4 linked regions of the Homo sapiens genome follow. The protein of the gene in region 1 purifies or fractionates together with the protein of each later gene. This does not show direct contact. Each region holds a gene or a part of one and is shown in the gene's direction. Other genes may lie near its edges. The genes, in order: DOT1L, H1-10, HNRNPM and YBX3.

The links.
Region 2: the proteins of DOT1L (region 1) and H1-10 purify together in Homo sapiens (affinity purification with mass spectrometry, with the first as the bait; 2 studies listed by BioGRID). This does not show direct contact.
Region 3: the proteins of DOT1L (region 1) and HNRNPM purify together in Homo sapiens (affinity purification with mass spectrometry; 2 studies listed by BioGRID, with this or other methods). This does not show direct contact.
Region 4: the proteins of DOT1L (region 1) and YBX3 purify together in Homo sapiens (affinity purification with mass spectrometry, with the first as the bait; 2 studies listed by BioGRID). This does not show direct contact.

What each region holds. Positions count from the first base shown.
Region 1 is NC_000019.10:2,215,787-2,223,005, forward strand, and holds part of DOT1L (histone-lysine N-methyltransferase, H3 lysine-79 specific), read left to right. Parts: intron 1-494; coding exon 495-979; intron 980-1,168; coding exon 1,169-1,304; intron 1,305-1,985; coding exon 1,986-2,132; intron 2,133-4,321; coding exon 4,322-4,436; intron 4,437-6,189; coding exon 6,190-6,773; intron 6,774-7,219. UniProt on the Homo sapiens protein: Histone methyltransferase. Methylates 'Lys-79' of histone H3. Nucleosomes are preferred as substrate compared to free histones. Binds to DNA.
Region 2 is NC_000003.12:129,314,140-129,321,291, reverse strand, and holds H1-10 (histone H1.10), read left to right. Parts: upstream 1-5,005; 5' UTR 5,006-5,389; coding exon 5,390-6,031; 3' UTR 6,032-6,521; downstream 6,522-7,152.
Region 3 is NC_000019.10:8,461,880-8,469,098, forward strand, and holds part of HNRNPM (heterogeneous nuclear ribonucleoprotein M), read left to right. Parts: intron 1-649; coding exon 650-702; intron 703-1,617; coding exon 1,618-1,625; intron 1,626-1,713; coding exon 1,714-1,807; intron 1,808-3,444; coding exon 3,445-3,636; intron 3,637-4,355; coding exon 4,356-4,509; exon of another isoform or gene 4,510-4,735; intron 4,736-5,622; exon of another isoform or gene 5,623-5,655; coding exon 5,656-5,705; intron 5,706-6,894; coding exon 6,895-6,955; intron 6,956-7,219. UniProt on the Homo sapiens protein: Pre-mRNA binding protein in vivo, binds avidly to poly(G) and poly(U) RNA homopolymers in vitro. Involved in splicing.
Region 4 is NC_000012.12:10,713,177-10,720,395, reverse strand, and holds part of YBX3 (Y-box-binding protein 3), read left to right. Parts: intron 1-1,252; coding exon 1,253-1,316; intron 1,317-2,274; coding exon 2,275-2,308; intron 2,309-4,612; coding exon 4,613-4,702; intron 4,703-7,062; coding exon 7,063-7,185; intron 7,186-7,219. UniProt on the Homo sapiens protein: Binds to the GM-CSF promoter. Seems to act as a repressor. Also binds to full-length mRNA and to short RNA sequences containing the consensus site 5'-UCCAUCA-3'. May have a role in translation repression.

The sequences.
Region 1 (7,219 bases):
AGCATATTTGGGTTCTGACCATTTTTGTCATCATCTTTTCTGTGTAATAAAAAAACAATGTGTTTGTTAAAAGAAAGGAAAGCAGGTAAACAGAACAGATAAACTAAAAGGAAAAAGCCCCTCTCAGACTCAGCGCCCGGGGAAGCTGCCACGCTCGAGTGGCGTGTCCCTCCACAGGTTTTACACTTAGTGAAACTGGATGTTTTACACTTAGAGTCTATTTTGAGAGACGAGAGCTCTTTGTATCTTCCTGTTGCTCTTTTTGAAGAAGGTGCTTCCATGTCAGCAAAAACCATCCTCGGCCCTCCACATGACTTTATTTGACGCCCCCAGCTTCCCGACCCCGCCTCTATGTGGTCGGCAGCTTTGGTTTTTCCATCCCACACAAGCAGCGGGGGTCCTGGCCACCCCTCCGGGTGTCCATCTGTGGCAGTCTTGGTTCCCTGGAGTGGTCCCCCGGTGGGGCGGGCCTGACACCATCTCTCCTCCTGCAGATCAGCATTGTGGAGCTAGAGAAGAGCCAGCGGCAGCAGGAGCTCCTGCAGCTCAAGTCCTGTGTGCCGCCTGACGACGCCCTGTCCCTGCACCTGCGTGGGAAGGGCGCCCTGGGCCGCGAGCTGGAGCCTGACGCCAGCCGGCTGCACCTGGAGCTGGACTGCACCAAGTTCTCGCTGCCTCACTTGAGCAGCATGAGCCCGGAGCTCTCCATGAACGGCCAGGCTGCTGGCTATGAGCTCTGCGGTGTGCTGAGCCGGCCTTCGTCGAAGCAGAACACGCCCCAGTACCTGGCCTCACCCCTGGACCAGGAGGTGGTGCCCTGTACCCCTAGCCACGTCGGCCGGCCGCGCCTGGAGAAGCTGTCTGGCCTAGCCGCACCCGACTACACTAGGCTGTCCCCGGCCAAGATTGTGCTGAGGCGGCACCTGAGCCAGGACCACACGGTGCCCGGCAGGCCGGCTGCCAGTGAGCTGCATTCGAGGTGAGTGCCCTGGTGGGGCTGGGGGTCTGCAGCTGGTACCTGCCGACTCTGCCTGGTGTGCTCAGGCTGTCGGGTTCTCAGCAGGAGTGTGTTTGTTGAGGAGACTGAGGTGGGGAGGTGCTGGGCCAGGCCGCTGCCTCTGAGTGCCAGCCCACGGCCCTCGAGAGTGACTGCAGCTTCTCATTCCAGAGCTGAGCACACCAAGGAGAACGGCCTTCCCTACCAGAGCCCCAGCGTGCCTGGCAGCATGAAGCTGAGCCCTCAGGACCCGCGGCCCCTGTCCCCTGGGGCCTTGCAGCTTGCTGGAGAGAAGAGCAGTGAGAAGGTGCGGGCCGCGACCCCTGCCCCGGGCTCAGGGAGGTGCTCAGCAGAGGCGGCCTGAGCGAGTTGCTAGCAGGAGGGCTTGTCCTAGTTGACCTTGGGGCACGGTGAGGTACTGGGGCTGACCTGGAGTAGGATGTTGTGGCAGAGTTGGGGGCAACCAGTAAGGACAGGTCACAGGTGACGTTGGGCAGGTGCCATGGAGGACATGGGGTTTGTCAGGGTGTCCCTGATGCCTCTTAGTTCTCAGTGACGGACGGCAAGTGCTGGTAGAGACACAGAGCCCAGTTTGGGAGGCCGCTGCCCATGAGGACTTCCCCGGGGGCACTGGCCTGTGTGCACAGGGATGGAGAGGGAAGGACGGTGACGTTGCATGGACTTGGCAGTGATGGATGTGGGCCCTGGGAGGCTTGGTGGCCCCACGGGTGACTGCCCACCGAGCCGGGCGGGCAGGCTGGAGGGGACAGATGGGCATTGCTTTCAGACACCAGGAGCGTGCCGTCCCTCTGGAGTGTCCCAAAGCCGGTGTCCAGGAGGGCCTGACTGCGTGGGGAAGGTTGCAGGGCCTTGGCAGCGTGGGGGCCGCCTTGAGAGAGCTGTAGCAGGCCCCCGTCCTGTGGCTGTGGTCCCTGTGTCCTGGAGGGGTTTGTTGACCCACGACTGGGGGTCGGGCCTTCGTCTGCAGGGCCTGAGAGAGCGCGCCTACGGCAGCAGCGGGGAGCTCATCACCAGCCTGCCCATCAGCATCCCGCTCAGCACCGTGCAGCCCAACAAGCTCCCGGTCAGCATTCCCCTGGCCAGCGTGGTGCTGCCCAGCCGCGCCGAGAGGGCGGTGAGTGGCTCCCAGGTGGCTGTCCCCAAGGGCCACGTTGAGGCAAAACAGTCTGGGGTGCTCGAGACCTGGCTCACTTTGCGAAGTCTCACGCTGTAAAATGTCGAGCGTGAGGCAATGCAGTCAAGGTGGGCTGTCCAAAGCCGGGGCGTGTCCGGTGACCTGGGCCGTTGTTTTCGCCAGTCTTTTTCTTTTGGGTGAAAGGTACGTGTGCAAGTGGAGAGGGCCTCACACCTTCTGGGTTGAGGAGGAGCTCAGAGGCCCACCCTGGCTCCCAGCCTCACTCCTCACGAGGCCACATTGGCTGCCGTGGCCCCTGTCCTCACAGCTGCCTCTGGGTTCTCCCACCCAGCGCTGTGCATGCAGAGAATCTCGTCTTGTGTAGCATGGGCGGGATTTTCTGGGCATTGAACTATTTTTTAAAAATTGTGCGCTTCAAGTATATGCTTCAGTGGTTTTTAGCATTTATTTTTTATTTTTTATTTTTATTTTTCAGACGGAGTCTCACTCTGTCGCCCAGGCTGGAGTGCAGTGGTGCGATCTCGGCTCACTGCAAGCTCCACCTCCCGGGTTCACGCCATTCTCCTGCCTCAGCCTCCCGAGTAGCTGGGACTACAGGCGCCCGCCACCACGCCTGGCTAATTTTTTGTATTTTTAGTAGAGATGGGGTTTCACCGTGTTAGCCAGGATGGTCTTGATCTCCTGACCTAGTGATCCGCCCGCCTGGGCCTCCCAAAGTGCTGGGATTACAGGCGTGAGCCACGACGTCTGGCCTCTTTCTTTTTTTTTATTTTTCGAGATGGAGACTCATTCTGTCCCCCAGGCTGGAGTGCAATTGTGTGATCTCGGCTCACTGCAATCTCTGCCTCCCAGGTTCATGCCATTCTCCTGCCTCAGCCTCCCGAGTAGCTGGGATTACAGGTGCCCACCACCACGCCCGGTTAATCCCCGCCCCCACCAGCTGAGACGGAGTCTTGCTCTGTTGCCCAGGCTGGAGGGCAGTGGCACGATCTTGTGATCTTTACTCACTGCAGCCTCCGCCTGCTGGGTTCAAGCAGTTCTCCTGCCTCAGCCTCCCGAGTAGCTGGGATTACAGGCATGCACCACTATGCCCAGCTGATTTTTGTATTTTTAGTAGAGACAGGGTTTCACCATCTTGGCCGAGCTGGTCTCAAACTCCTGACCTCAGGTGATCTGCCCACCTCAGCCTCCGAAATTGATGGGATGACAGGCATGAGCCACCGCACCCGGCCAATTTTTGTATTTTTAATAGAGGTGGAGGTTTTGCCCTGTTGGCCAGGGTGGTCTCGAACTCCTGGCCTCAGTCGACCCACCCGCCTCGGCCTCCCACAGTGCTGGGATTCCAAGTGTCAGCCCCCGTGCCCGGCCGGTTTTTTGTACTTTTATACACCTCTGTCTAATTCAGGACATTTTCTTCACCCGGGAAAAAGCGTTGCCCGCCTCAGCAGTCACTCCCTAGTCGTCCCCCAGCCCCCGGGCCCCCGAACACGCTCATGTCTGGGCCTGTCCCTTCTCTTGGCACGTGAGGGCATTCCCTGTGTGGATGGAGTGTGCCATCTTCATCCGTGCCCAGTTGATGGACCCCGGCTTGATTCCCTGTTTTGGCGATTGTGAATCGTTCTGCTGTGAGCGCTGGGGTCCAGGTTTCTGTGTGGATGTAGGTTTGCTCTTTGGCCCATGTGGGAGTGGAGCTACTGGGTTCTGCGGTCACTCTACTGACCTTTGTTGGACTTGGAGTGTGGTGTGGGGAAGTGCAGTGGGTGGTGGCCGGCAGGTGTGTTCTCGCAAGCGCCCTCCTCACCCCACCCGACTGCTGGCATTTGTGCTGCTTGGAGAACACAGCCGCTTCCCGGTGAGGGCGGGCTGTGGGTTGCTTGGGTTGTGCCCAGTACCCCCTCCCCACAGCTGGACCCCGGGACCCCCGCCTCCTGACCTCCCTGCCTCAGGCCCGCTGCCCATTCACACGCAGGCACCGCGCACTCTCGCTGCGCCACTCGCCTGGGGCCCCGCTCAAGTTCCCCCGCTGCCCTCTTCCCACGCGGTACTGGACGGTGACCCCGGCGGCCTCCCCCAGCCAGCTGCAGGCCTCAACACTCACTGTTTCCAGCTGGGTTCTGGGTCTCCTGGGGCACCTGCTGCCCCTGACACACAGGGTTTTCTCTCTGCAGAGGAGCACCCCCAGTCCCGTGCTGCAGCCCCGTGACCCCTCGTCCACACTTGAAAAGCAGATTGGTGCTAATGCCCACGGTGCTGGGAGCAGAAGCCTTGCCCTGGCCCCCGCAGGTAACGCCCCTCCTGTGCCCTACCCTCAGGACTCTGCTGCTGCTGCTGCTCTTCAGGCAGGAGGGCTGGGTTGCTGGGAGTGGAACAGGGCTTCCTGGGGTGATCATGGGGGCTGCTGCCCCAAACCGCCACGCCTCATTACTGACACCCTTTCCTGCATCCCACGAGCTGGGATGCGGATCGGGCTCAGCTGCAGCCATCTCGGCCTCATACCTGGGTCTCCCGACACTGACACCTCCTGCTTGGGTGTATTAATTCAGCCCGTGAGGTCGGCCCCAGTGCTCTCGGGGGCTCCTGTACTCACAGCTGGGAGGCCCCTGACTCAGGATCGGCTCCACACACAGCAGTGCCCAATGGCACACGACCGTGGGCCTCCGTGCTGGTAGCGGCATGGTTTCTGGTTCCTTGAGAAGGTGCCGCCTGAGCAGTCTCTGCTGTTAGCCCAGTTTCTGCAGAGAGCCAGAGAGGATGCCACTTTGGCTTTTGTTGACACTGCAGGCCTGTCTGTTGTGGAAGCCGCAGAGACAGCATGTCAGCGGGCATGGCTGTGTGCCAGCAAAACTGTACTTAAAACAGCAGAGGACATGAGACCCCCAGGCTGGTTTGCTGGCCCCAGGTTGAGATGCGGTATGATGCGGCAGCTACTTTTTTAGGAGTAAAAAGTAAAATGTGGCCGGGCGTGGTGGCTCATGCCTGTAATCCCAGCACCTTGGGATGCCGAGGTGGGCGGATCACCTGAGGACAGGAGTTTGAGACCAGCCTGGCCAACATGGTGAAACCACCGTCTGTACTAAAAATACAAAAATTAGCCGGATGTGGTGGCAGACGCCTGTAATCCCAGCCACTCGAGAGGCTGAGGCAGGAGAATCGTTTGATCCTGGGAGGTGGAGGTTGCAGTGAGCTGAGATCGCACCACTGCACTCCCGCCTGGGCAAAAAGAGTAAAACTCCATCTCAAAAACAAAACAACAACAAAACAAGTAAAATGTACATGGCCGCTATTGAGACAGGAGGGGCTCTAGGGAGGCTGGGCAGGCTTCACGGTTGGCCACGTGAGGGCCCTGGAGAGGCCACCGAAGCCCGGGCAGTTCTGCCCTCGCAGGGCTGGGTTGTGCCCTTGGGGTGAGGTCTGCTCTGCGAGAGGCAGTGACAGTTTCAGGAGATTTTCAACTGGGTGGCAAACAGCCAACTCCAGAAGCGCCTTGCTGCGCCCCTGCACTGAGGCCTCATTGGCAGAAGCAGGGAGGCCGCCCTTTGTCCCCGGGTGGTCATGGAAGTGCACCACTCATCGTGGGCTGGGAAGCATGGCTGCGGCCTTCAAGGCGGCCATAGCTTGGAGTATCCAAGCTGAGTTGTCTTCTGAGAACAGGAGGGAGGGAGGCCACGCAGCCATGGGCTTTCCTCATGGTGTCTCTGAGATCACGGGGCCAGAGGGCAACTTACTCAGAGGAAGCCTAGCTCAGCGGGGAGCCCGCACCAGGAGGCTTCTTGGGAGGCAGCGTCTCAGCCGGGACCTGCAGGGCACAGGCAGCCCAGATGGGCGGGAGGAGGCACAGGGTCAGCCCTGAGCCTTGAGCTTGCCCACAGAGCCTTCTGGTTCCACCCCAGAGGGGCCGTTTTCAGACTCCCAACCCCTTCCCCACTTCCCCGCCTCTCCTGGAGCCCACAGAGCTCCTAGGGGGTGGTGCTCCCACAGCAAGGCTTTCTCTTTGGCCATCCTGTGTCCCCTGAGACCCCCATGTCCTTCCCGGCAGGCTTCTCCTACGCTGGCTCGGTGGCCATCAGCGGGGCCTTGGCGGGCAGCCCGGCCTCTCTCACACCTGGAGCCGAGCCGGCCACCTTGGATGAGTCCTCCAGCTCTGGGAGCCTTTTTGCCACCGTGGGGTCCCGCAGCTCCACGCCACAGCACCCCCTGCTGCTGGCACAGCCCCGGAACTCGCTTCCTGCCTCTCCCGCCCACCAGCTCTCCTCCAGTCCCCGGCTTGGTGGGGCCGCCCAGGGCCCGTTGCCCGAGGCCAGCAAGGGAGACCTGCCCTCCGATTCCGGCTTCTCAGATCCTGAGAGTGAAGCCAAGAGGAGGATTGTGTTCACCATCACCACTGGTGCGGGCAGTGCCAAGCAGTCGCCCTCCAGCAAGCACAGCCCCCTGACCGCCAGCGCCCGTGGGGACTGTGTGCCGAGCCACGGGCAGGACAGTCGCAGGCGCGGCCGGCGGAAGCGAGCATCTGCGGGGACGCCCAGCTTGAGCGCAGGCGTGTCCCCCAAGCGCCGAGCCCTGCCGTCCGTCGCTGGCCTTTTCACACAGCCTTCGGGGTCTCCCCTCAACCTCAACTCCATGGTAAGGATGGGGACCGGCAGGGCTGGGGAGCGCGGCCTGTGAAAGAAAGACCAGAGGGAGACCGGGCGCGGTGGCTCACGCCTGTAATCCCAGCATTTTGGGAGGCCGAGGCGGGTGGATCACAAGATCAGGACATCAAGACCATCCTGGCTAACACGGTGAAACCCCGTCTCTACCAAAAATACAAAAGATTAGCCGGGCGTGGTGGCGGGTGCCTGGGAGGCTGAGGCAGGAGAATGATGTGAACCCGGGAGGCGGGGCTTGCAGTGAACTGAGATCGGCCACTGCCTGGGCCACAGAGCGAGACTCCCTCTCGGGGGGACAAAAAAAAACACAAAAAAAAACAGGTGGAGGCAGGGGGCCATGACTGAGCCCGGCCATCCTCCACCACGTGCGGCCTGGCAGCCTGGGAAGAGGCGGCCGACAGCTGTCTCTGGGGTTCGGAG
Region 2 (7,152 bases), on another chromosome or scaffold:
CGTGAATGGGTGGATGATGTGTCTGAGTAGGTGTATGTGTACGAATCTGTGAGTGTGAATGGGTTAGTGTGTGGGTGTGAGGGGTAAACTGTGTGACCATTTTGTGAGCATGTGAATGAGAGGATGACAGGTGTGAGTAGGTGAATGTGTGTGAACCTGTGGGTGTGAATGGTATGTGTGAGGATAAATGTGTGGGTATGAGTGTGTGTGCATATATGTGTGAATGGATGCGTAGGTGTGTGTATGAATGTGAACTATGTGAATGGTGTGTGAGCATGTGAGTAGGAGGGTAAATTGTGTGTGAGTAGGTGATGTGTACGTGTGTCAACTGTAAGTGTAAATGGTGTGAGTGTGTGTGAGCATGACTGAGTAGGTATCAGTGTGAGTGTGAAGTGTGGGTGTGAATGGTGAGCATGTGTGAGGGTAAATATGTGTGAGTAGGTGTCTGTGGGTGTGAACTGTGGCTGTGAATGGTGAGCGTGTGTGAAGGTAAATCTGAGTGTGAGTGAGTAGGTGTCTGTGTGTGTGAACTGTAGGTGTGAATGGTGAGTGTGTGTCTGGAAGCCCAGAATCAGACTGTCGAGCTGGATCATTCAGACTCCATACATCCAGCCCCTTTATACAAACTGGGAGACTGAGGCTGGGCAGTGGTGGTGGGGAAGGGATCACACCCAGCGTTTGAAGGACAGCCCGGGTCAGAGCCCAGCCAGGAGCTCCTGACCCCCATCCTCCCATCCGCTGCTGCTGCAGGTGTGTCTGTGTCGGGAGCGCACTGTGTCCACCCCGCCTTGGTACAGCTAGGAGCATGACCTCCCCCACCCTGCACTTAGCTCACAGCCCACAACTCAACGGACATACTAGATGGCAGGGGCTGTGAGCCAGGCAGGGAGGGTGCTCTGGTAGGAGCCCTAGGGAGGGGTCTAGGGAGGCCGGCCAGGGAAGGAGCCAGCCATGGGGCCACCCCAGCAAGTCCCAGGTCCTGAGAACCCTCTGGGTATGTGTGGGCAGCAAAAAAGGCTATGAGGCTGAGTGCTCAGCTGGGGAGCTGCGGTCAGAGCCTTGGTAGGGGCCAGTGGCAAAGGCATTGGGAGACTTTACCCTACGTCTGGTGAGAAGCCATTAGAGACCTTCTGGCAGAGCCAGGACCCACCACTCAGACTTCTGTGTTGGGGCTGTGCGGACAGAACAGGAGGCTGGGTGGAAAGGGTAGAGAGGGTGGGGGCTCGGCAGCTGTGGGACCAGTTCTGGGGTAGATGGGGAGGAAGCCATGGGTTGGAAGAGAGTAGGGAAATCAGGGAGCAGTCCCTGTCTCTGGGCAGAATCACTGGCAAAAGTTTGGGAGGAGCAGGGTCTGTGTTGGCCACACCCAGGCTCCAGGTGAGGGTGGCAAGAGGAGCGGGATGCTGGGGTCTGCACGGGAGAGAGGCTGACCTCGGGCTAGGGAAATGAACTGCATCATCAGGGTACTGGTGGTGTTTGCAGCCCCAGGACTGAACAATCCCCTAGATAAGGAGGAGAGAGAGAGCCCAGCAGCCACAGAGCCCCTTCCAGATTCCGACCCCAGAAACCCCACTGCTCACAAGCCAGAGCCTCCTCCAGACTGGCCAGGCCCAGGGAAGGGCGCGACTCAGGTGCTGGGCACATGGTCTTGCCCTGGTCTCTGCTAGGCCCTGGCCACTTCCAGAAGCTCCTTTTCTCATATTTGGCCATTTTTTTTGGTTGAGGACCTGGGACCTTCCCCACCTACAGTTTCCTTGGTGGGGTAATGCAGAAGGGATGACCAGCAGTGTGGGGGTAAGAGGCACCCTGAAGGCTGCAAGACCCCAGCCTGAGTCCTGGTCTCCTGGCTAACCCCCTCCTCAAGCCTCAGTTGCCTCTACCATATCATGAGGGCAAGTGGAAGATCCCACTTAGTCTATGCCAGCTCCCAAAGTCTAGAATTAGTCTTCTGAGCCCTGCGCCACAGGCAGCCTCCCTCTTGACAAAAGCCCCGCTCCCCTCACAGGCTGAGGAGCCGGCCCCCAGCCCGTGTGCCCACCAAGGCTGGTGTGGGGTCTGAGCTGCATCCTCCGTGTCCTCCCCCCGGGACTGGACAGCACTGCCCTGCCCACAGGGCTCCAGCCCTGTGTTGACTGCTTCTCCCCTGCAGTCCCAGCCAGGTCCCCCGGGGCACCGTGGCTGCGAGCCTGGCCGCTCTCCTCAGTGCCCGGACTGCGGCTCTACTTTGTGAGTGGCTGTACTGGCTGCGGTGCCCAGCCCTCCTCTCTCGAATCTCCTCTCCTCAGATGTCATGAAGGAGGCCACACCTGGGTCCCGCCTTCCTCCGTGACCCTGTCCCTTTGTCTCCACTAGAGCATCCCCTTCCTCCAGCACAGATGACCCAGGAGTGTCCCTGGCCCAGCCTGTGGCTGCAGCCAGCTCCAGAGTGGCATGTCCAGCATGCCACTCCTCCCCCCTGCGGTGGCTGCACAAAAGGCCAAGCGATGGCCCTGTTGCCCATGGCTGGGACTCCTTCAGGGGTATCGCTTCTGCTCACCCTTTAACTTTTCAAAAGACCCAAGCTCAAGCCCCTTGTATTAGTCCATTCTCACAAAGCTATAAAGAACTACCTGAGACTGGGTAATTTACAAAGATAAGAGGTTTAATTGGCTCACGGTTCCGCAGCTGTACAGGAAGCACAGGGCATCAACTTCTTGGGAGGCCTCAGGGAGCTTTTACTCATGGCAAAAGGTGAAGTGGAGCAGGTGTCCTACATGGCAGGGGCGGGACCAAGAGAGGGAGTCAGGGGAGGTGCAACACGCTTTCAAACAACCAGATCTCATGATAGCTCACCATCATGAGGACATCACCGAGGGAATGGTGCTAAACCATTAGAATCCACTCCCATGATCTGATCACCTCCCACCAGGACCCACCTCCAACACTGAGGATTAAAACTGAACCTAAAATTTGGGTGGGAACACAGATCCAAATCATATCACCTGCTCTGGGTCATGGCCGGGCTGCCTCCCCTCCACCTGGTTCCAGGGCCGGCTCTTTTGGGTTTCCTGCTCCCATCCCATCTCTGTACACTGCGGTCACTCCAGCTGTGGCCACCATGTTCCTCTCCCCAGAGTCCCCTCTGCACATCCTCAGAAGGCTCCTGGTCCTGAGCACCCTGATCAGTGGGCCCAGCACACACAGCTGGCTGTTCCTCTCACGTCCTCCATGCAGCCAGCCTGGCCTGGAAACAGCTGTGCAGTTTCGGCAGGCTCAGCTGGGTGGTGCTTTCAGAAACCCATCCCCGTTCTCTGTCAGGAAATTCACATGGTCCTTCTTCAAGAAGGTGGAGGCCTCAGGCCCTCAACGTTGTCCTGTGCCCTGGAGACAGTCCACTCAGCCAGTCCTTCCTGGGAAAGGAGCCCATCCTCCTCTGCAGGGACCTGGGCTGCAATCTCTCTTCTCACTTTTCTCAGGGTACCTGGTGCTCTGGGGGGCGAAGGCTGTTTCCTGGCTCCATGCCCCTGCCAGCCTCCCCCCTAAAAAACCCATCCAGGCTCACCGTTTCCTCCTAGACATAATTTCTTCCTCTCTGGGGTTTATTCCCTTGACAGGGTGACAAAATGGGGGGCGTGTGTGTGTGTGAAAGGGGTGAGCTGGAGAAGAGGGGAGGTGCTGCTAGCCCTCACCCAGAGAAGCCTGCTTGGGCCCAAGGCCACAAATGCACCAACCCACCCCCTTTTCAGGGCCTTTTACTCTGTCCACCTGTAAATGTTCCTGTCTCTCACTCTGGGAACCCCAATTCGCCAGCGTCCTGTCCCCCCTCACCCCTCCATCGCTTTTCTATGCTGGGCCTCTGGAGACTGTCTCCTGCCTGCAACCCTGCCACCCCCCAGCCCCAGCCCCACTCCTGTGCCCTACATCACCTACCCCCAAAGGGATCCCCTCTCCTACCCGAGCATCTTACCCTGGCCTCAGCTTCCCCAAGTGGAGGCTGCAACGGCTTCAACAAAAACTGTCCTGTGCCTTCTCTGCACCCCCAATACTGGAATCAGCAGAGATCGGGCCGCCAGCCTTGCACAAGCCCCCCCGGGGAGGGTGGGGCCCGGGACCCTCTCCAGGACATGGTCTCCTTTGCTGTGTTCCCGCCATCATTTCCCTGTGCACGGGAGAGGGGGAGGGGTGCACCCAGGAACTAAGAGCGAATCCCTTCCCCATCCTCTCACAGGAATTCCTCTGGGTGTCACAGCCTCACCCCCGCCCACCCTGTCCCACCCTGGAGCCCCCATTTGGCTTTGGGGGGACCGGCGGCAGCTACTTGTGGATTACAAAATGAGGCCCTGGGAACATCAGCGGCAACAGGGTGGGGGGAGCGGCGAGGCAGTGTCCCTAGAGAGGTCCTGCCGTAGTCCTCCATTCCCCGGGTTGTGCCTAGGCTCCCAGAGGCACAACCAGAACCCGGGGTGCAGCTGGAGAGTGCCTCCCATCCGCCATCCCCTTTGGATGGGGCGGAAAACCCCCGAGGATGTCCTAGCGCAGTTCACGTTGCCCCAGCCGACCACGTGAGGGCGCGCCCTGTGTTAGTTTGGACAAATTAAAGCTCCTCTTGCGGGCAGGCCTGGAGCCCCCCGGGCCGGGACAAGGCTCGGGTGCCCGTGGCGTTCTCTGGGTTGCCGGCCGCCAAGCTCCCGGCCGTGGGGCCTCCTCTGGGGCCCGCGCTATTGGCCTCCAAACGAGGTGCCCCCCTCCTCTCGCGCTCCCGCAGCCTAGGGTGCACCTCTCCGTTCGCCTTTGCTGAGCCCTTCCAGGACGCAAGTCGCCTCTCCACTGCGCCGGGAGCTCAGGCCCTGTCCGGGGCGCCCCGCTGCGGGCGCGGCGGCGCTGGAGAGGCGCGGTCCGAGAAGCCAGCGGCCGGAGAAGGGGCTCCAAGAAGCACAAGTTGGCGCTGGCCCCGGACCAGGCTGTTGTTGTTCTCAACGTGGTCCGCCATGAAGCTATAAAAAGCCGAGAGAAGCGCCCTCCCGCCAGAGCGCAGCGCGCACGCCCAGCGAGTTCCAGAGGCGCCAGTGGAAGCTGCGGCGGCGGTGTCTCGCGTTCGGCGGGATTTCTCTTCGCTCCGGCTCGGCCTAGGTCTACGTCCCCAGCTCCAGCCGCCGGCTCGGACTCGGTCTCTGACCCCCAACTCGGTCCCCTAGTCCGGCCCCGGCTCCGGGCCCCCCAACCCTCGCTCCGGCCCGGCCCGGCCCCCACCCCAGCCCTGCCGCCCGGCCCCAGGCCCGGCCGCGGCCGCTCCCGCCTGGAGCCGCCGCGCGCCCCCAGCCCCCCTGCACCCCCTCGGCCCCTCGCCTTCCTCTTCCCGGCGCGGCCCCCCGGCTTCCGCGCGCCGCCCGCCACCAATCCTCTTGCTACCATGTCCGTGGAGCTCGAGGAGGCCCTGCCAGTGACGACCGCCGAGGGAATGGCCAAGAAGGTGACCAAGGCTGGCGGCTCGGCGGCGTTGTCCCCATCTAAGAAGAGGAAGAATAGCAAGAAGAAGAACCAGCCGGGCAAGTACAGCCAGCTGGTGGTGGAGACCATCCGTAGGCTGGGCGAGCGCAACGGCTCGTCGCTGGCCAAGATCTACACCGAGGCCAAGAAGGTTCCGTGGTTCGACCAGCAGAATGGGCGCACCTACCTCAAGTACTCGATCAAGGCGCTGGTGCAGAACGACACGCTTCTGCAGGTGAAGGGCACCGGCGCCAACGGTTCCTTCAAGCTCAACCGCAAGAAGCTGGAGGGCGGCGGGGAGCGGCGCGGAGCCCCGGCGGCCGCCACCGCCCCGGCCCCCACCGCGCACAAAGCGAAGAAGGCAGCCCCGGGCGCGGCCGGCTCCCGGCGCGCGGACAAGAAGCCCGCCAGGGGCCAGAAGCCGGAGCAGCGCTCGCACAAGAAGGGCGCTGGCGCCAAGAAGGACAAAGGCGGCAAGGCCAAGAAGACGGCGGCCGCCGGGGGCAAGAAGGTGAAGAAGGCGGCCAAGCCCAGCGTCCCCAAAGTGCCCAAGGGCCGCAAGTGAGCGTGTCGGCCGGTCAGAGCGGCCGGCGTGGGCTTTTCGGTGTTTTTGTTTTTCTACCCCAAGTGACGTAGATTTTGTACGGCTCACGCCGGCCGGGGCCGCGAGGCCTGGTCTGAGCCTCAGGGAGGGGCCCCGGGTCCTCTCAGTCTTTCCCCTCCCCCAACGATGTAGCGTTTTTCGTTGTTTGCTTTAGGTTTTTGAAACAGCCCCGGCGACGCCTCTATTGGCTCTCGGCCTTGGCAACGGCCGTCGTCATGGTTACTGGCCCCTAGGCGCCGATGGCCGAGGCCGCGCCTGCCCACCGGGCGGGGTCGCTGGTTGGCCGGGCCCAGGCGCGCGGGGACGCGGAGGCCGCGCATCCTTTCCCAGCTCCCCACCCTCCTTGCCTTTGGGTGCGCGACAAACAATCGCTCCGGGCTCAGGGCTGCGCGGCTCTTCCCTTCATTCCATGGGCCTTTTTTTGGGCACAATAAAGCGTTTAAACCTTTCAGCCTCTCTCGTTTAATCTGAGTGGAATAGGGATGGGCGCCTTCGGCACGCGGGGTTGGATGGCGGGCCCCTCGGGTCCTTATACCCCAGATCTGTTGGCCAGGGTAGGCCTGGAGCCAGGGGCCTTCAGCAAGGGGTGGGAATTGCTGGCTTGGGACGAACTTAAAGTACCTGGGACAGGGAGATAGACAGGATCGGTCCCTTAGGAGGGATGGATCTATCTGCCCCCACAGGGGGTCCATCGGCCATTGCGGGGAGCGGGATGGGGGAGGGGAGAGGAGGGGGGATTAATGGGTTTTCAGAGTTAATGGTCAGGGACCTAAACTTGGCCTCCAGAGAGGTAGTTCTTACAAAGTCACACCAGACTGGCCTGTAAACTTAGTCATTCTGACTCCAGCGAGGGTTAGAGTGAGATGTGACCAGGACGAAGTGTGGTGGCCAGAGAGTGGAGTTCCTGACCACAATCCAACGTGTGGTCTCAGAAGGGTATTTGCTGTCTCTGAGCCTATTGGTTAAGCTAGAGTGCAAACGGGACCCAAAGGATTGCTGGGAAAATTAGTAGGAGCAGAAGGATCTCCAGCCCTGGGACATTCTGGTATCCAGCATGTGGGATAGTTGTCTGTCCAGTTGGG
Region 3 (7,219 bases), 6.2 Mb from region 1:
GCTATAGAATTTGTGGGGCCCAACACAAAACGAAAACAAGGGGCCTCTTGTTAAAAAAAAAAACTAAGAATGTCATGGCAGCGATAACAGCATTAAACCAAGCTCAGGGCCCCTGAGTGCGGGGCTCTGTACAATTGCACGAGTTGCTCACCTGTGAAGCTGGCCCTGCGGCCGTGTGTGCCTGTGAGCTTATACCTTCGCATACGTGCGTCCTTGTATTTATAGCATGTGAGCTCAGCCCGATGGCATCGCAATTTGTATGCATTTCACCTGCTTGCCACCAATGAGAGCGTATGTGTAAAACCTCCTCCCTTCCCCAGAAAAGTAAATCACGCAGACTTCTTTCCTATAGATTTGGATTGCCTCTAGTCATGAATGAGTCTTCCAGACAGGGAAATTGATACGGAAATCTGTGGAATAGCTTGTTTGTGGTGGGAGGAAAATCAAGGACATATTGTTAACGTGTTTTCACCTACTTTTACTGCACACCTGTAATGCCTAGTTCGGTGGTTTAGAGAATATGGAGTGTTTCTGGGCTTTCTTATAAGGCAGAGGCTCCATACAAGGTTGCTGATGATTGTTCTAAATTCCCATTGTTTTCTTGGCTTTTCTCCCTTGGTTTATGTGTCGTCTGGAAACTGATTTGTAGTTGGTGAGGTAACATACGTGGAGCTCTTAATGGACGCTGAAGGAAAGTCAAGGGTAAGTGTCTGAGAGAATTTCTTCTGTGGATTTACTACATGAAAAATGTAACTGTATGGTGGCGTGGAATCGAATGAAATCAGGAAGGCAGTGAGTGCTCATGTTACAGTAGCTATGTTTGATTTTGCCAAACATTTGAGTGGGGTGGGAGGGGATTTGCAAATGGGAGTCCCGCTTTTCCAAATGGCTGGCCAAAGAGCTTTTTGGTATTCTGTTTGGATGCCCAATTTGGATAACTGGGGACCAATAGCAGCATTGTCTCTTTGTTAACAGAGGAATTGGCTGTGTGTGAATTATGCATGGAATTTTAGCGGTGGTATAATTAATGTAAAACGTGTGTTCTTGTCTAGAAAATGTTACTCTTGGTTGTTTGCTGAATTTGAAAGTTGTGTGAACCAAAGATTCCGAAAAGTTGCCTTTGTGCCAGTAAATTGTAAACCAAATATTAAAAACCTGAATGTTCAAAATTGGCCTAGTTTAAAGAGAACATAAACTATTTTCTGTCGTGCAATAGAATGGCTTAGAATAATCAAAAGGATGAGCTTAACTTACGGAAGGGATGGATTTAGGAGGAATATGGTAAGGACTCGATTGAGTACAGAGGGAAGCAGATCTAAAGTTGGTGTGATTTCTTGGAGACCCTGAATTTAGGTCTGCTTATTAAATGTCAGCAGCTCTAGTGCAATGCTGGTAACGCGTAGGAGAAGGAGATATTAAGGAGCCCAGCTTTTAACAAGGAAGGCGAGGCGAGGCACTTCTGTCAGCTTCCCCTTAGAAGGGTTCATTTTAAAAGACTAACTTTGTGACATAAATCATATTTTTAGTTTGTTTATAACTGTCATTGATATTTACTATTTTTTTCTTTTCTTTTTCCCCTTCCTTGCTCTTCTGACTGGTCTCTGGCTTCCTCCAAAGGGATGTGCGTAAGTATCGTCTAGTTACTTATTGGTATTTGAGCCTTCTAACTTGTAGGACTGGTTTCACTCGACTCGTTTCCTTTTGACTCTATAGTGTTGTTGAATTCAAGATGGAAGAGAGCATGAAAAAAGCTGCGGAAGTCCTAAACAAGCATAGTCTGAGCGGAAGACCACTGAAAGTCAAAGAAGTAAGCTCTTGCTTAACACTGCGGATACTGTGTGTAATTGTTGAGTGATCCTACTTTGGAATTAGGGAAAGACGGTCATGGTCCCAGACGGCATTTACAAAGCAAGTGCCAGCCTGTTGTTTCTAATGAAGAGTGTCGGTCATAGCCTACAGCAGCCATTCCCTGCAAGGACTTTGGGGTGGTGGCCAAGCAGATCCTGAGTGGCTGCTGACCACCTTCTAATATCTGTGATTTGTCTGAGGCCTTGTTGTCTCAGGGACTCTCAAACCATGAGCCCGTGGGTTTGTGCCATTAAGTTTTACTCCATCTGACCCTTCTTCTTGGCCCATCTTTTTTCTTTTTTTAAAAAGTGAGTTTGTTCCAGCCTGGGCAACATGGTGAAACCCCCTCTCTACAAAAGGTACAAAAATTAGCCAGGCATGGTGGCGCATGCCTGTAGTCCTAGCTACTTGGGAGGCTGAGGCAGGAGGATCATTTGAGCCCAGGATGTGGAGGTTGCAGTGAGCTGAGATTGCACCATTGCACTCCAGCCCGGGCAACAGTGAGACCCTGTCTAAAAAATAAAAAAATAAAGTGAGTTTGTTATTCCTCAAACCTGCTTTCACATCTCATCTGAATCAAATATATTCCTTGAGGAAGAAGGTTTTTTTGTTGATTAAATCCCTCTTGGCTGGGCGCAGTGGCTCACGCCTGTAATCCCCAGCACTTTGGGAGGCTGAGGTGGGTGGATCAAGGTCATGAGTTCAAGACCAGCTTGACCAACATGGTGAAACCCTGTCTACTAAAAATACAAAAAATTAGCTGGGCGTAGTGGGGGGTGCCTGTAATCCATCTACTCGGGAGGCTGAGGCAGGAGAATCGCTGGAACCCAGGAGGCGGAGGTTGCAGTGAGCCGAGATCGCGCCATTGAACTCCAGCCTGGGCAGTAAGAGCAAAGCTCTGTCTCAAAAAAACATCCCTCTTAACTTCTTTTCACCTCTTCTCTTGGGGAGGAAGATGAGTAGATTCAGAGTGAAGCTTGGTAGGGTCTAAGGTCTCTCATGTGTTATGATGTCTTTTTTAGTGCTGATGGTGGTAATTGACAGGACAGAGAGTTGAAGAAGAGAGTCAGTACAGAGCTTCACAGACCTTCCCAGATGTTGTTTTACTGCGCAGCCCTCACACACACGCCTCCAACACCTGAAGGACTTGAAGGATGGGGGCGCTTGTGTGGTCTAGAACTGTTTCTCAAACTTCTGGAAGCCATTGACGGGGTTTGCAGAAGTTACAAAACCCCATTGATGAATTAGTAAGATTCAGCTATACCAAGCCCATGAAGCTCTAATTTCAGTCTGGCGGTTCTACATTATATCAGCTAATCATGTTTCCCTCCCTACCCTGCTTTTCTTTTTTACTTAGTGCAATTGAGAGCTGTGTTTTTAGTGCTACACTTCATGCCTTTTCTTCCTTTCCTATTTCTTTAGCTGGACTCTTCTAAGCTGGTAGTTGAGTTCATTTGACTTTCTTGTTAATAGATTTGAGAGATGCTTTCCAAACAACCTTTCAGTTTCTAAGTCTTGAGAATATCATTTACTGTGCAAGCATGGTTTGCGTTGTACTGGGTCAGTTAAACGTAACACCTTTTGTGCTTGTTTTAGGATCCTGATGGTGAACATGCCAGGAGAGCAATGCAAAAGGTGATGGCTACGACTGGTGGGATGGGTATGGGACCAGGTGGCCCAGGAATGATTACTATCCCACCCAGTATCCTAAATAATCCCAACATCCCAAATGAGATTATCCATGCATTACAGGCTGGAAGACTTGGAAGCACAGTATTTGTAGCAAATGTAAGTAAACAGAACCATCGTCTAAAGTAGAAAATCAGAACTTTATGAAATGACCTTGTCAATATGTTATAAAAGTAATTCTCACATTTGAGAAGAAAAATGTAAAGAAGGGTTTTGTTCTTGATTTCTTTAAAAATCAGCCTTATAGGCGGGCTTTGTCTGCATTCCTAAGTCACAGGCTTGACCGTGGTCTCGTTGGGGCTGTGATTCCTGAGTTTCGCAGGTGTTTCCGCAAGCAGTAACCGAGTCTGCATTCTCCGTTGGTTTATTTTATGCAGTTTTGGTGCAGAGTAAGACTGTACGAGCAGAAGTGCACTGACACCTTCCTCTTGTTGTGTCTGGGGTGAATGATAATACCTCCACCATCTGCAAGGGGAAATATTTTTAGAATAAAGTAGGTTGGGTGGGGTGGGGAGTGGTAAAGCTTATCAGGGAAACAATTTTTTAAAAATGTTCAGAAAATGAGTATTAATTTGAAGTATGAGGTGACTTAAGTTTCTGAGAAAAGAGACAATATATTTACTATAGGTACAGTTTATTTACAGTGAAGGCCAGGCTTTATAATCCTATTTTAAAATTTCCATTGCAGTTGATTAGTTTTTGTGACATTATTTCCTAATACTTTTTTCCAACCAAAGCATGTATCATTCATGTAGTAAAAATGTTGTGTTTCTTAAGATGTTTACATTGAGGTTTTTACCCCGTTCTCTCTCGATTAGCTGGATTATAAAGTTGGCTGGAAGAAACTGAAGGAAGTATTTAGTATGGCTGGTGTGGTGGTCCGAGCAGACATTCTTGAAGATAAAGATGGAAAAAGTCGTGGAATAGGCACTGTTACTTTTGAACAGTCCATTGAAGCTGTGCAAGCTATATGTATCCTTCTGCAGGAATTCAACTTATGAACAGTTTGACCTAAATTGCTGTGTTAGTAATGTAGGTTTGTGTGAGGAAGAGGTGACTGTGTGTATTCATGTTTTTTATGTGACTAGGGGGAGTGCATTACTGTGGAATTAAGAGGTTCTCTGGGCCGGACCGGTCACGGTGGCTCACGCCTGTAATCCCAGCACTTCGGGAGGCCAAGGCGGGCGGATCACTTGAGGTCAGTTCGAGACCAGCCTGGCCAACATGGTGAAACCCCGGCTCTACTAAAAAATGCAAAAATTAGCTGGGCGCAGTGGTGGGTGCCTGTAATCCCAGCTACTCGGGAGGCTGAGGCACAAGAATCGCTTGAACCCGGGAGGTGGAGGTTGCAGTGAGCCGAGATTGCGCCACTGCACACCACCAGCCTGGGTGATAGAGTGAGACTCAGTCTCAAAAAAAAAAAAAAAAAAAAAAAAGGTTCTCTGGGGGTGGAATTGATTCAATACAGTGTGGATAGAGGGGATGGTTACAACATGGGCATATGCCCATGAGTCTTTCTACTGTTTTCTTTTCAGAAGAGTCTAGGTTTGAAGGAGGAAGTCCAAAGAATGTGCTACTAGAGAGAAAGTGGGGTTGTTGTTTCATGTGTAATACATCCTTATAGGACCTCACTCTTTCCAGTGAGTAGACATCATTTTGGAAGAGGCCACTTCTCCTTGACCCTAGGCTTAGCCTAGAGTTTTTAATCCCTTGGAGAGTACCCCACAGGAGCACATTCATACAACTCAGACAAGACCGTCACTGCATGTCTTACCCAGAAAACATGGTCCTTCAGTTTAGATAGTGGTAGATGCCTGGCCCATTGGTCACATTCAGAGAACCTTGATGCCACTGCTTAAGAGGATGGTTTGGTGAAATTGTAAGGTTACGAATGAAGCTTCACACCTAAGGAATAAGCGGAAGTTGTCTTGTCCTCCCCGCCAGCTTTATTTATTGTTCCTTTTATGTTTATTGTTGAAAGTATAATGAAGAATTGAAATTGCTCATAAATTCATCACTTAGAGGGACTGGTAGCAGTTGGAGTATTTTTCTTTCTTTTTGTATTTCTCTTGTGCACATTTTTAGAATTGCAAGAAATAGCCTTAATTGTAATACCAGCTATGTTCAATGGCCAGCTGCTATTTGATAGACCAATGCACGTCAAGATGGTAAGTCAGTAGGATCTTTCTCTGTGATATACTCAAGTCTAGCAAAAACATGGAATTAATAAGAGTGTACATATAGCCACTATGAAATATTTGTGGATTAGTCTAAGTTAAATAGGGTGCAGTATGTTGAGCAAAATTGTGAGAGAAATAACATTTTGCTGGTCAGGCGTGGTGGTTCACGCCTGTAATCCCAGCACTTTGGGAGTCTGAGGCAGGCGGATCATGAGGTCAGCAGTTCGACACCAGCCTGACCAACGTGGTGGAACTCCTCCGTCTCTACTAAAAATACAAAAATTAGCCGGGCGTGGTGGCACGCGCCTGTAGTCCAGCTACTCGGGAGGCTGAGGCAGGAGAATCACTTGAACGTGGGAGGCAGAGGCTGCAGTGAGCCGAGATCGTGCCACTGCACTCCAGCCTGGGCAACAGAGTGAGACTCTGTCTCAAGAAAAAAAAAGAAGAAAAAAAAACATTTTGCTCATGGCAGCTCTTGACTGCATTAGATATTTTTCCTTTTGCACAGTTGACTGTTCATGGCGCATTCAGGAAGTCACCTGGGTATCCTGGTTGAGCAAGTGATCCGTTTCAAAGAATGGTTATATATGTGGGGTTCCAGTTTTTCAAAGTATTACAGTATAATGTTTGGTTAGCATCAAATCTGTTGTGAACATAATTAAGTCATTGATTCAGACAGCTTTTAAAGGTCTGTTGGAGCACTTCAATCTTAATAAACATTTGCTCTGCCGTAACTGTGCCAAAGATAATAATTACTACAGGCATGACTGGAACATGCTGAGGGCAGTCTAGTTGGGACTCAAATTCAGGAAAAAGATAAACTATAAAGCAATTTTTTCATTACTCTAAATAGAGTAGGTAAGTTTTTTGAATAGATGATAGATTCACGTGACTCAAAAGTCAAAAGGCATGAAAAGGTAGTGTGAAGATAGTGTGAGTCCTACTTGGACTTCTTGCCCAGGTCCCCATCATCCCCCACAATAATATCCATGTGTCTTTTCCCTTGACATAAAATAGGAAGCATGCTCCGCATGCCTTTCTACCCTTGCGTATTACTCCATGGCGTGGATAATGTGTTTAGCTGGTCCTCTCTTGATGGGGGGCCATTTCAGTCTTTTGCTGTTGCAAACACTGCTGCACTGGATACTGAGATTTGTTTGTTTTCTTTCTCTTTCAGGATGAGAGGGCCTTACCAAAAGGAGATTTCTTCCCTCCTGAGCGTCCACAACAACTTCCCCGTAAGTGTTTCAGTGATTAGGGCTGAGAGTTTGAATTGGAGTTACACTAATAAACAGAAAATTACCATATGGTTTCACTTGAACCTGTGCCAGGTTAGCCCTCAGTTCTCTTGGCCAGTTCTTTTCTATAGATTTTTCAGGGTGAGAAATGAGCAGAGATTCACAACTTGAGGATATTGTTAGGATTACCTCATGGTAATCCTAGGATTGTAATACCAGGATGTAGAGGATGTGGTTAGGCATTTTGAAAGTGTCCTGGGGAAG
Region 4 (7,219 bases), on another chromosome or scaffold:
GAGATATAAAGACATGTTTTTTTTGTTTTGGATTTTCTTTCCCCCAACAAAGAGAGCTAAAGTATTTTCCCAAGTGTATCAGTCTAGCAAACTTCAGAACTACCCCTGCCTACAACAGAGCAAGTCTTAATTACTATTTTAGTTTTGAATTTAAAAGTGAAGCCTTATTGTTTATCCTTGGAAATTATAAACTTTGTATCTTATGAAAAGACAGTATGGATTGATGTTAATAATTACTTTCATTCTCTACTGAGGCTTTTTTCTTTATTTTTTCTTTAAGGTAATCTATTATCAGGTTTCCTGTTTCATTGAGTCTTTATAATTGCTTTTTGCACTTCCTGAATTGAGACAGGGGCATTTCCTAGAAGTACTGAATTTGTCATTCATAATTGATTCCAAAGATCATATTTGAAATAGTTGAGATAAATATAAACCTACAAAATACAAGTTACATGAAGTTTTATTTTGTTTAGATTCCTTCTCTCAATTCTGCTAAAATCAGGCATTGTAGAGAAGTGGTCCTGCTCATGAGGTAGAGACAACCATTATGGTAAAGAGGGGGATTTTATGGAAAAATGCTTAAGTTTGATTCGCAAAACTGTAGAGAGCAAGGTAAACAAAGAAACAAGCCCAAATTCATCATGTGATTTGAAAAGACCTGTTATATCACGTCTCAGAGTGGTAAGTACAGAACTGGATTGAGACAGCAGCAGTTCTATAATTATTCTTGACTCCTCTGATGAGCTCCCACTTGGCGACTGGACAAGTTGCTTTACGTCTTTGTAGATTGCCTGTTAACAAGGAGCCACCTTGTTTCTCATTAAAGTTTGCCTAATATTTCCAAGTATGAAAGTGATGTGTTAAGGTCTTTCACTCTTTTATTGTAGCTCCTATTTTGAACTTATAAAATTTGTCTAGGTTAAAACTTGGAACATTCATCTTGAACATTCTTTTTTTCCTTCAGTGTTTCTCAATTTTAATGATTACAGAATTGTATAGACTTATAACCACTCCTTATCTTGCGAGTTTCCTGAAAAGTTGAATAAGGAAGAAAGGTTTAGTCTTCTGAAAAGTATTTCCTTATGAGATCTTGGCTTGCTCCATTTTCTTTTTCTAAAGTATTTTGGAATTAAGCTTTTAATGGTTTCTTTAGGTATGTTTAGGCTTTGTCTAATGTTATCAAGATCTTAGTGATATGAGCTATATCTCTCTGTAGGTCAGATACTAATTTATCTGCTTAATCCTATTTTAGCCACCAAAGTCCTTGGCACTGTCAAATGGTTCAACGTCAGAAATGGATATGGATTTATAAATCGGTATGTGTGTGTGTATATTTGCATGTTTTAAGTTTATACTTACATTGTGGCACCAGGAGTTATAAATCCCTTAGCCTTCATTAATGGCTTATATAAATTTTTTAGGTTTCTAAGCACTGTAAATATTCTCATTTCTAAGCTACTGGTTGTTAAATATTACTTAAAATACATTTCCAGGACACTAATAAATAACTTATTTCATAAAATCTAGTCATTAAGGAAGAAAAGGAGGGGGAGATAAAATCAGAAATGGGAAGGGCCTTAGGATAAATGAGACCATATCCATAATTTCACAGATGGAGAAACGGAGTCTTACACTGGTTAAGCAGCTTTCCTAAGGTCACCCAACTAGTGAGTCATTGAGCTGGATCTTTAACTCACTTCTGGTCCAGTCCTATGTAGAAACTGTAAACTGTGGTAACTTTTAACCGTACAGGAATGAGAACATAACTACAAGATGCTGGGAGTATTATGAGGTTTTCACATGATATCGGCATTTTCTTTGCTTTCCCACCCCTTCTTAAAGTCCTCCAATTTCTTGTCTCCTTTGGTGGGGTGGGGGTGGGGGGCTGTTTTAAGTTTCAGTGTAAGGAGAGCCTAGTTCACAGCTGTGCCCTGTCCTTTTAACTGTCTTGCTTTGCTTTTGCTGGGAGGAAAATCTGAGGCTCTGATTACACACCATGTGATTCAGAAAGAGACAGAGGAACGGGATGTTTCTGTATGTTGAGTCTGTGAGCTTGGATCTAAGCACTGTGGCAATGTGGAGGAGGAAGGTGGGTGGCCTGTGGAGTTAGAAATGTTTAACAAGGATTTTAGGTGTCTGAATTGAGTGTAGAAAATAAGTGAAAATATATGTTGTGTTTTGAGGACTTGGGAGTTAAATTCATAACACATAGGTTCTTTTAAGTTTTTCCACATACGTACTACCTTTAATTGTGAGCTTTTTGTCTTTCAACAGAAATGACACCAAAGAAGATGTATTTGTACATCAGGTAAGAGGGATTATAAATACTACATTTGCTATGTGAGGAGAGGGTGTGTAATCTTCTGTCAGCCCTTTCCCAAAAGTAAGTCCTATGGATTATTATTTTAATCTAAACTCTTTCTGTGATTTATTTTGCAACAGGAGTTCAGTTCCACATTTTAAGATTGGCAAATAAGTTCTTCTACCCCATCATATTAACTGTTTTCAAATAGTTTTATTTTTGCAGTTGTATAAAGTGATATTTGGTTAGACCACTTTCTAATTTTTAAAGCCTTTGAGTCCTTAGCAAAAAAAAGAAAAGTCTGTTTCCCTTTTAGCATCCTGTTCTCCTGATGTGGTTCCTCCTTAGTGTTTGCCTGGAGCCAATCTGGCTTCTGCCTGGGTAGGTATTGGTTAAAGCTCCTCTGTCAGAGCAGCTCTCAATTGAAGTAAATAGCGCAGAGAAGCAGATAGTAAGATGAGAAAACTTCCAGTTCCCAGGGTAGCCCTCACTCTTGTTAAATGAGGCATGTTAGGACGTGTCCAGGTCAAAAGCTGCAAATTCCCTTAGATTTGCAGGAAATAGAGGAAATGGGTAAGATATGGAGCTTCTCTGCTATAGGTGCCTCAGTTTTTCTTTGCTTTATTAGCCTAGGATGTTATTTATTCTGTTATTAATATGTCCTAGACTTCCTTTATAAAATAGGTTAAGAGAAGGAATACTATCCTTAGTGTTCTTTTTGTTTATTTAGTTTTCAGTGAATTGTCTGAAATATGCGTTCTCAGAGTATAACAATAAGGAAGATAGAGCAGCAGGTACTAATGCCAGCCCATTCTCTTGCAGTGCAGAAATCCAGAATACATCTGATTTTCTGTGTTTTTGTTTCCTTCTGTTTAGGTTTGTGTGTGTATTGGAGTGACCGTAGGAGTTGGAGATAGTGGTATCTAGCTGTGGTTTCTATTGTTTATATTTCTACTTGACTGGATATATCTCAGTTGCATTTAGATAATTTGAGTAGATTTATTTTGTTCAGATACAGTGACTTTTAGGGTCATAATAGTGTTGTTTATAATACTTGGAGGTTTGAGGTTAATAGACCTTTTAGGGTAAGAATTCTGAAGACTGCTAGAGTCAAGGTCCTCAGAAGTTGCTGTATTGGTGGCTGGCTTTATTAGCCTGTGAGTATATGACCCGATTCCAGCCCCCGTGAGGTTGTGTGGTGAGTCACCTCAATGTGTTGAGGCTTGCCCAGTTTAACAGGAAAAAGGGAGCGAGCCGGCAGGGAGGGGCTGTTTTTGGAATGGCTGAATGTTCATGCTGCGTGCCTGTCCTGAACTGCCTTTTTTCCTCTATGGGTGAGGTCTCTGCTCTGTTGGCTCACTATTTCTTTTCCCTCCTACTCAGAGTTAGGGGACGGGCTGGATTACACATGCTTAATCGCTTTATAAAATAAGGTTGACCTAGTTCCATAGAAACGCAAGCCCCTTTAACTGTTTAGAGATACCAGCCAAAGAAATGGAAATGCATGGCAGGAATTATTTTCTGCCTTCATTGATGGAACAAGAGAGAGCAGCACCTATTCATAAGCAGATATTTAGGTGTAGATGTTTAATGAAGAATAGCATCTTCACTAACCTTTTAATGTATTATCAGGGAATGTAGGATTTGTTGACATGAATTGTGTGATGGGAGAAAAGTTGAATAAATATCATATAGGTAGAGTACAGGGATATGAATTCCCCCTCCTCCACTTCCCCCATCATCCCTGGGGCTGTTACGGTTGTGACTTCAGATAAATCACTTTAACTGTTAGCCTCGTGTTAACTCATCTGCAAAATGGGAGGAGAGGGGGGAGGCCAGATTATTACTAATACGTTCTGATTCTTGAGATAATTTTGTTTACTCGTCAGAAATATTTATCCCCTTGGCATTTTAATTTGTTTTTCTTTATCACTGCCTCCTTTCCTCCTCCGGAGATTCAGAGAATCTCTGAAGCTTAATGGTTTGAGGTAATTAATACATCTGATATGATCAGGTGATCAGCCTGTAACAGTAGTGTGTAGTCACTGCACACACTGCAGTTATAGAAAAAACATGTTCTGTTTAATCCACCTGTCAAGATGAATAGCACAAATCAAGGAAGTAATGTGGAATATAGTTTTATAGTGCTTTCTTGTTGTTGTGTTGGAGATCCAACTTAGTGGGAGAATGGTGGAAAAATAAGAATCGGTCAACAGTTTCTTCAAGTTCACTCTGGTGTACTTGAAAGCAGTGAAATCTGTGGCCAATATTGAAATATACATCGAATAAAATTTTCTGTTCTCTTTCCAGACTGCCATCAAGAAGAATAACCCACGGAAATATCTGCGCAGTGTAGGAGATGGAGAAACTGTAGAGTTTGATGTGGTTGAAGGAGAGAAGGTGAGAGGAAATTGTGGTTGGGTATCAAAGTGCTGGCACATAGTACTGTTGCACAATAAATTATCTATCAGCCCCTTATGAATTGACATGACTTTGGAATTTTTGTACAATAGCAGGAAGTGACTTTTAAACAGAATTTTTTTTTTTTTTAAGATGGGGTCTCCCTCTTGCCCAGGCTGGAGTGCAGTGGCGCGATCTTGGTTCACTGCAACTTCCACCATCCAGGTTCAAGTGATTCCTCTGCCTCAGTCTCCCTAATAGCTGGGATTACAGGCATCCACCACCACGCCCGGCTAATTTTTGTATTTTTAGTAGAGACGGGGTTTCACCATGTTGGCCAGGCTGGTCTTGAAACTCCTGACCTTAGGTGATCCACCTGTGTCAGCCTCCCAAAGTACTGGGATTACAGGTGTGAGCCACCACACCCAGCTAGCAGAAATATTTTTGACATTGTCATTATAAACATTCTGCAATAAAGATACTTTAATTTCTTATTTAATAAATGATCAACTCTGATTATGGAAAGAAAAGCTGATTTCTCAATTTAAAAATAATTTATATTTTTATACCAAAGGTATGTATTTCGAAATGCAGATTAAAATTTAACTATCTTATGTATTAACAATATATTAAAAGTGCTTTGCAGCTGGGCGTGGTGGCCCACACCTGTAATCCCAGTACTTTGGGAGGCTGAGGCAGGCGGATCTCCTGAGGTCAGGAGTTCAAGACCAGCCTGGCCAACATGGTGAAACCCGTCTCTACTAAAATTACAAAAATATCTGAGTGTGGTCGCACTCCTGTAATTCCGGCTACTCAGGAGGCTGAGGCAGGAGAATCGTTTGAACCTGGGAGGTGGAGTTTGCAGTGAACTGAGACATTGCACTCCAGCCTGGGGGACAGAGCAAGATTCCGTTTTTTAAAAAAAAAAAAAGAAAAGAAAAACTGCTTTGGGGCAAAAGATTTCTTTTATCAAAGTAAAGTTTTCAGGCTGACTTGTAAGCACTTCTACCTACAAATAATACATGGTAAAGAATATTTTAATCCCAATAAAAGGAGATCGAAATTGAATATTAATCATTTTGTTTTCTGTTTGGCTTGGATTTTGGGAAGCTGAAGGTACCCTGATAGACCCTAAGATAGCTTCGTCCGGGTGAACTGAATCCAAGAAGTTAAGGGATTTTCCTGAAGACTAGCTACAGAAGTTTTTAATACTGTTATATATTTAATTCCGTGTCTGTAATGCCCTTTATGCTTTGTGTTTAGTCTGTTATAGATACTAGTAAAACAATATTGAGTAAGATTAAAAACACGCTAAAACTACATATAGCACAACTGCCATGGCAGCTAATCATGGCAGCTGAATTATAAATTAACTGGATGAGAGGTTAACTCCCTGTATGTGCTCCTCCCATATACACATATACCATTCCATAGGTCATGTTCCTAATGGCTCTCAAACCATTGTGTTTTAAAAGAAAAACAATTTATTTCATTGGATGCAGAAATTTAAGTGATTATCTTTACCGGTGTGATCCCCAGGGTATCTTGTAAGTCTTTTAGATTTTCAAATCACTCACCAGCACCTGCCACTCTGTGAGGATCTCTGATATCCCATCCAATTTTTAAAAAATTGTTTTGGGTTGATTTTTCTTCTGTATGTTTTCAGAACTCAGGGTTTTACAAAGTGATGTAGGGTGTGAAATACACTCTCTGAAATCTTCTTGGTCTACATTTTTTTAACATTTTTGAAACATTTTCCATTTGTCCATATGAGAATAAGAATTCTAAATCTGTTTCAAGGATAATAGGAAAGGCTAAAGAAGGACTACATGTGTGGAGAATATTATTCATCAAAGACCCTTTCTTCTTGTTGCTGCCAAAATAGGAGAAGTTTCACTCAGTACCTTTGTGCTGGACAGAGAATCATATGAGCCCATGAATAGGGATTGTCCTCTTGGTACCTCCTAGACTAACATAGGTTTCAACACATTCTAGGAAAATAACAGTATCTCAAGTCTTTCCCATTGAGGAATATTCTTCCTGGTCTAGCATTGCTTCTACTTTGACAGTTGTATATTTGCTAATTTATGTTCTTTAAAGAGGTTACACATTGCTTTTGCGATTGACATTACTAGACAAGAAAGCAAAACTCAGGTTGTATGAGCAAACAAGCCATATATGTTTAAATCAGGATGTGAAGTACCTTGCTCACTTTGTTTAAAACCTAGATCTGTTTTTAAAATCACAGTGGGAATTCTTAGTATGTTCTGCCAGTCTTATACTCTAGCAGTCCAAGGCTGTTTTTTGAGTTAGTGTATATTCTTTTTAATTTTGAGGCCATCTTTTTATTTTCTTCTCAGGGTGCAGAAGCTGCCAATGTGACTGGCCCGGATGGAGTTCCTGTGGAAGGGAGTCGTTACGCTGCAGATCGGCGCCGTTACAGACGTGGCTACTATGGAAGGCGCCGTGGCCCTCCCCGGAATGTACGTTGTCTCTGTTACTTAACCAGTGATTGAG